Regions from separate parts of the Homo sapiens genome. Here region 1 is linked to region 2. Evidence: fine-mapped expression QTL. Tissue or cell type: whole blood. Region 2 holds a variant in brackets; the other region holds the start of a gene. All regions are shown on one strand. Distances are between the middles of the regions.

Region 1 (5,373 bases), 59 kb after region 2:
ATTTAGCTGAAATTAATAGCACAATGGGAAAATGAACTAGGGCTGAACAATAACACAGCGGGACTTCAGATTTGCGGCTGGTAAAGAAGCCTCTCTCGTTCTCAGGGCGCCCCCTCGTGGCCGCTTGACTAAATCCTGACGGAATGTTCAGTTTCTGCAAATACAGAGAAAGACATCCCCCAAAAGAGAAAGGCGGACTCCTGCCTACTGATGCAAATCCCTTTCACTCTAACCTAGTCTGTGGATCAGACAGCTCAAGAACGCCTGACAGGAAGTCCCACTGACGCTCAGAAAGGCGTCTGCCATAAGACAAGGGTTCGTTCGTTAGAAAGGTCTGAGGTAGTGCCCCAGCATTTAGACTTTGGGGTCCCTTCACAGACCCTAGACACACCCTTACCACTTCAACAACCCCTCATAGCCTCACATTCTCAACCTGCAGCTCGAACTGCGTCTGTTTTTCATTATTCTGCTTCCCACCTTCCCAGTGCGATTCTTCAGCAGCTATTAAGACAACATGAGCAGGGATCTAAGCTTAGTTTTTGCTTATTCAACATCCAGCCTGGGGAATATCACCTCAGAAGAAAAGCATGAATGAAGTGCACGTTTCCCAGCCTCTTCTTCCACAAACCTGAAATTGCCTTCATCAGAGGCCACCCTTACAACCCTCCCCTTTAACAATTTCATCCTACGAAAATGGCACCTGCCCAGAGTGAATTCTCAACTACTTGCTTGCTGTAGAATTTATTACAGAGCCAGCTTTAAAAAGAAATGTACGCCATCTCAAATTTCCAATTAATTGATAACAGATTTTTTTTTAAAATAACGTTATGGGACGAAGTTATATAGACCCAAACATCAAATCTGAGAAATGGGTTGGGAGGGCGTTATCCGGGTATCCAGATATTTGAGAATTTGGGGACTGAACTTTGCTGACTGGCACCCCCATGTTTTTTTCACAGAACTGTTCCTGCCGAAATGCAAAAGAAACATGTCAATACTAAGCTGCTATTTTATTTGACAGCTCATTTTCCTTTTTCCCTGCAGTCATTTGTTGTTTATAAGCAAACCTGAGCCTCCAAAACACCCCCAAAAGTGCACACAAGGAGTCCCATAATCAGTTTCTGACTTTGGCCCTAAATCGATTAGAATACATCTGATCTGCTTCAAATCAAAGAACCATGTTAATTTTCTGCCACACACCACACAAAATCTTTCTGCAACAGTCAGTCACTTTGAACCCAACTCTCTAGCCACAAGCAGTGTGGATTTCAAGGGCCTGTTCTGCAGAAGTGAAAATAACAACAAACCAAGGCTGGGACAAGGCAGACAGACCCCAAGGCACTCAAAGCACTCCTTGGAGCTGTGCAAATGGTGCCAGGACCCTGGCAGGGTGTCAGCTGTCACAAGAGCAGCGGGGCCAGACCCCTTCAGCGGTTTGGTAGCCCTGCAACCAGGAGCTGAAACACAACTGAGCCTGCTGCAACTAAGCACAGCTATCTCTGTAGCTACCCATGCCCTGGACATTTCGGTCCTCCCAAAGCCATGATGCAAACTGTTAGAATCCTCAGGCTTGCAGTAGTCTTTATTTTTGCTCCCTAACCTTGTCTCAAAAACAGGCAAGAGTCGCCCTCCCTTGCAGTCACAGCAGTATCAGGGCGATGCAGAGTCTGAGTGGGAGGATGCAGAGCAAGGAGCTGCGGGCAGATGGGTGGAAGGGGGTAGGGACACCTACAAAACACCGGACTTGAGGGGCTAGCTCCTAGCTGGGAATGTGGTTCTTTGGAGAGTTGTGGAAATAAGACGTTTCGGGGCATGGTCTAAATGAGTGCCTGCGAGGGAGAGAGACCCCGGCCGTCCCAACGCTGCAAAGTGTTTGCAAATCTAAAACATTCCTTTGCTGCTAGGATTAAATTTTTAAAAACAAACCAAAAAATAAAATAAAATATGTGCAGACAGGATGTAACAAGTGTTTCAGGACAGAGACACGCCTGAGTCACGGGGTGCTGGAGAAAGAGTGAGGAGTCTGTCTCGGGGCTTCCCAATGAGCCCCCTCTCTGTCAAGAGAGCCCCAGGGCGCACAGACCCCCGCCTCGCACGCCCTCAGTCCCCGGCCGCGTCCACCCAGCGCCCCCCGCACCCTCCAGGATTGCCCCACTCACCACTCGGCCAGAAAACCTCTCGGTGGCCCGCTTGACTTTGCCGTAGGTGCCTTTGCCCAGGGTCTCCTGCAGCTCGTAGCGGTGCTTCAAGTTGTGCTTGTGGTGATGCCGCTTCACCCCGTGCGGCTTCCTGGGCTCCAGGGCTGCAGTCGCCCCCGCCACCGCCTCTCGGGGAGAGCCCGGCGCCCCCAGCCCCAAGTCGGGGCGGTCCCCCGCCACAGGCGCGGCGGCCCCTTCCATGTCCAAGCGCGGGGCGAGCCGGGCTACAGAGGGCAAGACCGGGCACAGCGCTGGGATGTCGGGGTCCCCACCGAGGGAAGCCGCTGTACGCTCAAGGTCGCCCCCGCAGCATCAGGGAGGCGGCCCGATACCGCTCGGACTGCGGCTCGGTCACTGGCGGCGGCGGGGACTGCACATCTGGCGCCCGCGGCGCGCACGGTCCGCGCACCGCCCCCCGGCCGCGGCGAGCTGTGGAGCGTCGGGCGAGGTGGCGGCGGTGGCAGGGGAGGCGGTGGTGTTTGCAGGAGGGAGGGGAGAGGGTGGCTCGCAGCGCAGGAGGGGGAGTGTTATGTGGGGCGCCGCGCCCCCCAACCCCTCCCCGGGAGGACGCGCAGACGGGGCGGGGGCGGCGCTCGCGCGGCCCCAGGGGAGGGGGAGCGAGGGGCGGTGCAGCCAGGGCTTCCCCCACCTCCCTGCAGCCACCCGGGGCCGGGGCCGCCGTGAGCTGGGAGGGGGATGGGAGCGTGTCGCGACTCGCCCTTTGTGCGGCGCGGCGTAGGCCACGGCGGCGGCGGCGGCGGCGGCCAGGAGTGCTTTGTCCTCGCTGGGCCGGAAGGGACCGGGAAATTCCAAGCCGGGCGCCCCCTCCCCGGGCGCTCTCGGGCTCGCCAGTCGCAGCTACCGCGGGCCCTCCGCCGCCTCGGGCTCCGGGGCCGGTCGCTCGGCCTGGATTCCTGCTGGCGCCGGGGCGGCGGTTGCGGCTGGCCGAGCCCCGGGGCCGGGGAAGAAAGAGCGCCGCGAGCCGGGGGCCGCCGGGACCTGCTCGCGATACGGCCGGGGCCGCCGCGGGCCTGGGCGCCCCTTCATTTTCTTGTAGGTGTCGCCGCAGCCTGGCGGCCGGAGCTGGGGGAGGGGGCAGGGAGGCCTGGTGTTCGGTTACAGGCGGTGACTCACGGACCTTGCCCGCCCGAGGCTGGCACCCCGCGGGGCAGAGCTGCGCCCGCCTGGGGCAACTCCGAGTCCAGGAGAACCCCAAGAGCGGCGCTTTGGCCCCGGCCCCCGCGCCCTCTCCGAAGAAAGGAGAGTCAGGGACGGAGGGAGGCCGGGAGGCTGAACCCCGGGCCCGCCGTCGAACCGCCGGCCCTCCGACACCATCTGGACCCCGGCGGGGACAGCCGCCTGGAAGGGGAGGAAGGCCAGGGACGTGGAAGAGATGGGGCTCTAAAGGCGCCGGGACGGAGCTGGCTCCCCAGAGGCGCCCACCCTGCCAGCGAAGGCCGCCATCGGAGGTGGGCAAACCAGGGACCTGGGGTGGACCAGGACCCCGGGCCTGCTGAGCAACCCGTTTGCTGAGCAGGAGGCGATTTGCAGGCCTCTTGCCTCCTTAGGCCTTGGGAGATTTCCTTTCACTGAAAGGGCCAGATCCTGGCGATGGTGACAGGAACGGTACCCCGCACGGTAAGGGTCAGGCAGGAAGGGCCTCCCACCGCGGCGTGGCTGCCGCCGTTCTAAGAAGAGACCATGAAAAATAAGGAAGAAGGCTAGAGAAAAAGAGGTCTTAGGGAAATTTTTTTTTTTAACAAGTGGTGCAATGTACCAGACTAGGGTGGGAAGAGTGAAGGCTGAAGAAGGTCTGGTGTTCTGCAGATCGCATGGCGGTTCTTTTCCACCAGTGGACCTCACTGGGGCCTCCTCTGCAGCTCTCAGGTGCAGCCCTTCCTCTACATTCCCGCCGCCTTCATTCCTGTCTACCCCTGGTCACCTTACCCCGGACTCCAGCAACAGCCCGCTCTCCCCAACCCTCCCCGGGAGCCTCCTCACTGCTGCCAGAGTAATGGCCTGAAACACTGCCCTCATCCTCCACACGTGTCTCTGCTGTACTCTGACGCGTGATATTCTTACCTGTCCAAACTTTCCTTCTACTGATATTTCACACAAACTTCCCTGCCCCTTCTTCCCTTCCCCAGGAGCAATGACAGAACACAGACACAAAGGCGCATCATGCCTATTCAATTCCTATTCTGTCCACCGCATTTGCAGGGCCTCCCTGCCACCCACCCCCATCCTGAAACTGTTCTGCTTCTATACAGTTTGTGGACGTTGTGCCTATAGATCCCACAGTCAGGATGAGTGGCATGCAGGTTGAGTCCTGGCTTCCCAGAGGATTGGCTGTGTGGCCTTGGTCAAATGACATAACCTCTCAGAGCTTCGGTTTTCTCTTAAGATATGGATTTAGCAGATCTATTGTAGAGATAAACACATTGTGTCTACAGTAGTATTTTAAAATATTTTCTACTTCTTCCCCTCCCCTGCGATGTGGTAGAAATCCACTACCCCATCCTCTTGAAGTTAGATGAGACCATCGGACTTGCTTAGGCCAATGGAATGAGAGCAGAAGTGATTGTGTTGCTTTCACTTGGAACCTTTAGGAGCCAGTGAGCAAATCCCCATGTCTTCTTTTTCCTATCTTGACAATCATGGTGGTACAAAGTTGGAGCCTCCCCAAGCCAGCCTGAGTCTCTGTGTAAAGATGGCAGAAAATCCCAGCCAATCTGCATTGGAAAAGTAGTGTCAGCAAATATTAAACTTTATTTATGTTAAGTCAGTGGGATTTGTTAAAGCAGCATAACCTGGCTTATTCTGGCTGATAGTGTTACTCCCAGATATGTGGGACTTCATCAGTATCTATTGAATCAACAGCATCATCTACCATAGGCTGGTACTGTTTTATGACAGTAAACCCTCCTCTGTAAAGTAGCTGTTTACAATCCCTATTTTCAATTGAAGAAACCGTATCAGAAAGGTTAAGTAATTTCCCAGAGGTTACACAGTTTGTAAATGGCAGGACCAGGATTTAAACCCTACCTGTCCAGTTCCAAAGCTCCCCCTTCTCCTTTCATATATGCCATGCTCCGTCTCCTTAAATGGGAAGGATGAAAAACACCCAGTACAATGCCTAGCACACAGTCATGCCCAGGCACTGGGAGTTCCTCTC
Region 2 (5,373 bases):
AGAAGCTGCATCATAGGATGGGAAAAGGAAAGGATTCAGGGTTTGAGCACTTGAGTTCAAATCTCAGCCTTGCCTCGTACCAGCATCTAACCCAAGGCGCTTTAGATAATCCCACCCCACTCCAATCTGGCCCACGGACCAGCAGCATTAGCATCACCTCGGAACATTTCAGAAACTGAGACACTCAGGCCCTGCCCCAGATCCACTAAAACTGCATTTTCACAAGAGCCCCAGTGTATAATACGCACTTGCACATTAGCCATTCTAAGCCTGCATTTCTTCATCTGTAAAGTGGGGTTGATGATAATAATGTCACCTACCTGGAAGTGCTGGTACCAAACCAAATAAACTGATTCATGGAAGTGCTTACACCATGCCTACCTAGCACACAGTAGGCCTTCAGTAAATGTTAGCTATGACTACTTTATTTAACCTCTCTGAGTCTCAGATTCCTTTGTTGGAAAATGGAATTGCAATACCGCCAATCACTTGGTGCTGTGAAAATCAAAGCCAGATTAAACAAGAAAAGAATTAAAATAGGCCAGATGTGGTGGCTCATGCCTGCAATCCCAGTGTTTTTCAAGGTTAAGGCAGGGGGACTGCTTGAGGCCAGGAGTTTAAGGCTGCTGTGAGCTATGATGGTGCCACTGCACTCCAGTCTATGCGACAGAGCAAGACCCTGTCTCTAAAAATAAAAGTAACAGTAGCAGCATTGCTATATGCCAGGCACGGTTCTGTGAGTGCTACATATATTGATGTAGTAAATTCTCACAACAACCCTATCTGGAAGATTGCAGATAGTGGAATTCTAAAATTATCCTTATTTTGCAGATAAGAAAACTGAGGCACAGGGTGGTAAACTGGCTTGCCTGAGACATCGGTGAACAGCTGCCTTAGCTGTAAAGTTCTACATAAAGGGGAGTTATTGCTGTCAGGTGGCTGACGAGGAAATGCACTTTCTGTGTAACTCTTCGGGAAGACAGCAATTCCATCCAGGAAGGTACACTCCATAACTCCTTTCCGGCCTTGGAGTTGATCGCTGTGGCTTCACTCAAGACAGCCTCACTCCTGAGTTGCCAGGAAGTGAAGGCAGGGAGTGGAACAAGGAGCAGAAGTGAGTGGGGTCGGCTTCTGTCTTCAGAGGATCTAAGCTCATGCTGCCTCTCTTAAAAGAAAAGAAATTCCCACCAGGAACAATGTGAGGAGGCTCTTAAAAGAGGGCGCGTCCAAGCAGCAGCTCCCATGGATGTTAATTAGCAGCCAGTGCCAGCTCACAGCACACAGCCCTGGCATCCCCGCATGGCTACTCTGGCCACCATGACTCAGCCTGGCCATCAGCCACCATTAGCACTTGGAGAGTCTCTCGCAGTGATAGCTGTCTGCAAGCCTGCCTGCAGACAAGGTAAGGCTGACCAAAGCATGGACCAAACAGTGCCCTCATTTGATGTGCTCTTAGATGTATGGCAAATTTGGATAGTAAGAGTAGAGAGTAGAATTCATCAGGTGTCTGGTCTTTAGAGTCAAATAGCCATAGGTTTGTAGCCAGTCCCATCACTTATTAGCTGCAAGAGCTTCCTCTTCTGTAAAATGATGTAATCACACCCACCCCGGTGGAGACATTCTGAGGACCAAATGAAATAAGGTGTGGAAGGTCTGACATGGGGCTCTAGCTTCTAGCAGGGGCTCAGTAAGCATTACTTTCCTTTTCTAGTCTCCATGCTGTGTTCCTGTGCTTGCTGTTTCTTCCTCTTGAAAAGCCATCATCATGCTCCTTACTATCAAACTCCTACCCATCCCTCAAAACCCAATTCAATCCCTCTTCCTCCATGAAAGCTTTCTGGTCCATCCAGCCAGACAGACCCACTGCTTCCTGCTCAGCACTTCCAGAATACATTACACAGGGCCATTTGGCCCTGCCAAGGGAGAAGGATCAGGGAAGGCTTCCTGGAAGAAGAGGCAGTCAAGCAGAGACCCCAAAGAAGGAGCAGGCAAAAAGGAATGAGCAGAGCATTCCAGACAGTGTGAACCATGTGTGCCAAGGTCAAGAAGCCAGAGAGAGCTTGGTGGATGACAGGAATTCAAGTCCTATACCAGGGGCCTTCCCTGACCACTCTAGGTAAAAGAGCAACTCTATTCTTCATTCTCATCCTGCATGGATTTTCTTCACTGCCAGCCAATTACATTATGTGTTTATTTGTTTACTGCTGTGTCTCCAACTGGAATTTTAAGCTCACTAGAGCAGGTACCTTCTCTTCTTCACTGACTTCTGTATCCTCCTCACGGCTCATTATCACTGCTAGTTTAACAACTGCGAGATCCTGAGTTCCAAGACAGAAATTTGGCCATCTAGTTCACTATTAAATCCCCAGCACAGGGTCAAGTACACAGTAGGACCTTAATGAATATTTCTGATCAAATAAATATTGCCCAGAAAAGACGTTCAATTCCTCAGTGAATAAATGCAGGAATGGATGAGTGAATGCAGGTATGCGTGGATATATACACACAACACATGAATTGATTAATTCATGCATGAACACAGAGCTCTCCCATTCATATCATCAAAGCCCAGAGGCTGACTCTCAGCTGCCCCACTTGGTCTTATTAAGCTTCAGAGGTTTCTATCTCATCTTGGCCCTGGCCATTCAAAGCTTCTTTTCTTATCCACAGCAGCCGCGCTTCCATTGTCTTAAGGGGCAGCAGGCCATTTCCCCTATGCCCCTCTACTCTGAGCCCTGGGAGCTCACCAGATTCCCAGCCCTCTTGGAGGAGGTCGGCTGACCCTGGTGCCTGGACCTCTTCTCATTGTAAGACATTTTTACAGGAGCCTTCTATGGGAATTGTCAGCATTCCATTCTCCCAGAGAGTGGGCTGTGAATTTGGCCCGTTTTTTATTAATTGCAAATTAGTGCTGTGCTTGGTGTCTATTTTAGTAGACATGCTTCCAGAGTACGGAATGCAGCCCAAAGCAGCACATTGCTCTCATTCTTTCTGCTGACCGACTGTGTGAATATTTTTAGAAACCACACCCTCTCGCAGTGCCAGATAAATAATTTCCAATGCCAGATGTGTGCTCTGCAAATCAACATCAGGCAGGGAAGGGGAGAGGAATGAGCTACATGGCTCTCCCCACCACTGCAGCGACATGTGACAAGTTTAAACCAGTAGCATTTATATAGGCTTCCTAGGCCAAAGTCCTCCACCCTTGAAACGTGGAAAATGGATCCACATTTAGAGAAGCACCAGAGGG[G/T]GCTCCAAGAGAGGATCTTGCTGCTCATGTCCCGCTGGTTCGTGGCTCGTGTGTCTGTGGTCCCCCAGGTCCAGACACGGATGGCAGGGGCTCTCTTGAGCACAGAGGCCGGCTTGTGGCCATGTATCTGCCTGCCTTTGCCAGCATGGGTCCTTTCTAAATATGTTTCAGCAAAATGCTGAGTCAGGAAGAGTTGAGAATATACCACCAGAAGACAAATCAAGACCAGCTGAATCACATTTTTTTAAAACCTTGGAAGTGGATGGGAGATGATGAAAAGATAATTTGCCTGGAAGTCAAACACATGAGTTCTAATCCTGGCTCATCATTCCTTTATTCCAAAATCAAACCATTTTGAAGTACCTACTGTGTGCCAAGCACTAGTCTACACTCTGGGGAAGCAAAGACACAATAATTTAGTCCAGACTGATTCACTGTGTGATCGTGGGCATTATCCTCTAGACTTTCTGGGTCTAATCATTAAAACAAGGGGTTGGAAAAATGACTCCCAAAGTTCTTTAAAGATGTAGGATTCTCAGACCTAAGTAGGATTCCTTGAACAAAGAGGAAAGGAATTTAAAAGTGTTGATAATGGGAAGATCTGGTTTCTCTTTGGGACGTATGTGTGCATGCACACCCGTGCTTTACCTTGGGAAATGCCAGGATTAGAAATTCTTAAGGAAAGGTATATGCCTAAGCCTTAATTGATAATACTGCTTTGTGTGTGTGCTCTTTCCCTCCATCATGCACAGGCACCCTAGGTTGAAGAACTTGGTGCAGGGGAACTGTCAGGCCCAACATCATTGCCCTTTTGCTTACACAAATGAAGCCATTCTCCTGGGCTCCTGCCTCACTGTTTCCCTGCACAATTGCTTTCAGAATTCTAATCATTCTTTTCCTCCATTAGGGAATTACATGATTTCATAGAAAGCTATGTGTCTTATCACTTCTGGGAATACATCATGGGACCAAGAGGTCACACTGCACCATAGAACCCAACCCCTAGGCAAGAGGCTTACATTCCAGGCCTTGTAAAGATGACATTTAGTTTTGAGAGCTCTGGGGGCAGGTGGCAGGAAGGATCTGGAGAGGAAGTCAATAAGGTTGATGACACAAACCCTTAGAAAAATGTGGTGGCCCTCAAACCAAGACCAATTTTTCAGCCATGGCCTGACCACCACTCCCCAGGACCTAGGTAGGCACCTTCAGAGCAGCTGACTTCCGGTTCAATTCCCTCTCCAGTGGCCAGCCACTTAAGAAGGCTCCCAGTATAGTAACAGTTAAGCATGAATTGCTTTGATTGTAGTATTGTCTAAAATCTTCACGTTTATTATTGACTCTCCAGGACTGGGCACAGGGCATTGCACACAGTAACAGTTCAGAAAATACTCCTTGAAACAAAAATGAACAAATAAACAATAATCTGCAGAGACAGGAACTGGCAACTCTTGACAGATGAGGAAACTAAAGCCTAAATCATCAAGAAACTTACCCCAAATCCTGCCATTACTAAGGGGCAGGGTTGAAATATCTAACTCCAAAGCCACTGCTTTTAACTTTGACTCATTTGGACACGAGTGCTTAGCAGTTTACAAAACTAAACACAGAGTGTCTCATTCACTGCTCTAAGCAGGCCTGTGAGTAGTACTGTTACCCCGTTTTACAGCTGAGGAAACAGGGTTAAGTGGTTTTCCCAGTGTCAAGAAGCTAGTAAGCCATACAGCCCGGAATTTCCTAACTCTACAACCAGTGCTCCTTCTAGAATAATCCAACCACTTTGCCAGAAATAGACCCTGCGATTCCACTTCCTATTCCCATGGAGAACTACTTTGACCAACTATTTCCTGCTTATTCTATAGACTACATGTGACTACGGTCAAACACTCTGCAAGAGCAAGAGGTCACTGGGTCATGGCTTCCAGGGGCCTCTCAAAGGATGATGGTGACTAATGGTTGCTGCCATGATCTGTACAGAGAATCCCAACACCAAAGCAACTCCATCCTTCCAAGCAAGGAAACAAGTCTCATCACACGCTCCTCCACTGATAGCAGCAACAACAAAAAAATCATTCCCATGCTTTGCCCAGGGACCAGGGATAAGCCACTAACGTCACCAGCGGCCA

The links. PIP is the estimated chance that this variant, and not a neighbour inherited with it, causes the effect.
Region 1: NUAK1 starts here. The variant in region 2 is fine-mapped to the expression of NUAK1 in whole blood (TOPMed, PIP above 0.99).

The regions. Positions count from the first base shown.
Region 1 is chr12:106,136,255-106,141,627 of GRCh38, forward strand. NUAK1 (NUAK family kinase 1) reads right to left here and starts at 2,700. Exons shown (of 7, transcript NM_014840.3): 1 at 2,160-2,700. The coding sequence starts at 2,399. RefSeq lists enhancers at 1,129-1,630, 4,022-4,641.
Region 2 is chr12:106,077,545-106,082,917 of GRCh38, forward strand. All of the region lies in intron 4 of NUAK1 (NUAK family kinase 1), which reads right to left. Among named protein-coding and RNA genes, the nearest start is that of NUAK1, 59 kb to the right of the region's middle. RefSeq lists an enhancer at 3,347-3,847. The variant G/T (reference allele first, on the strand shown) is at 3,251.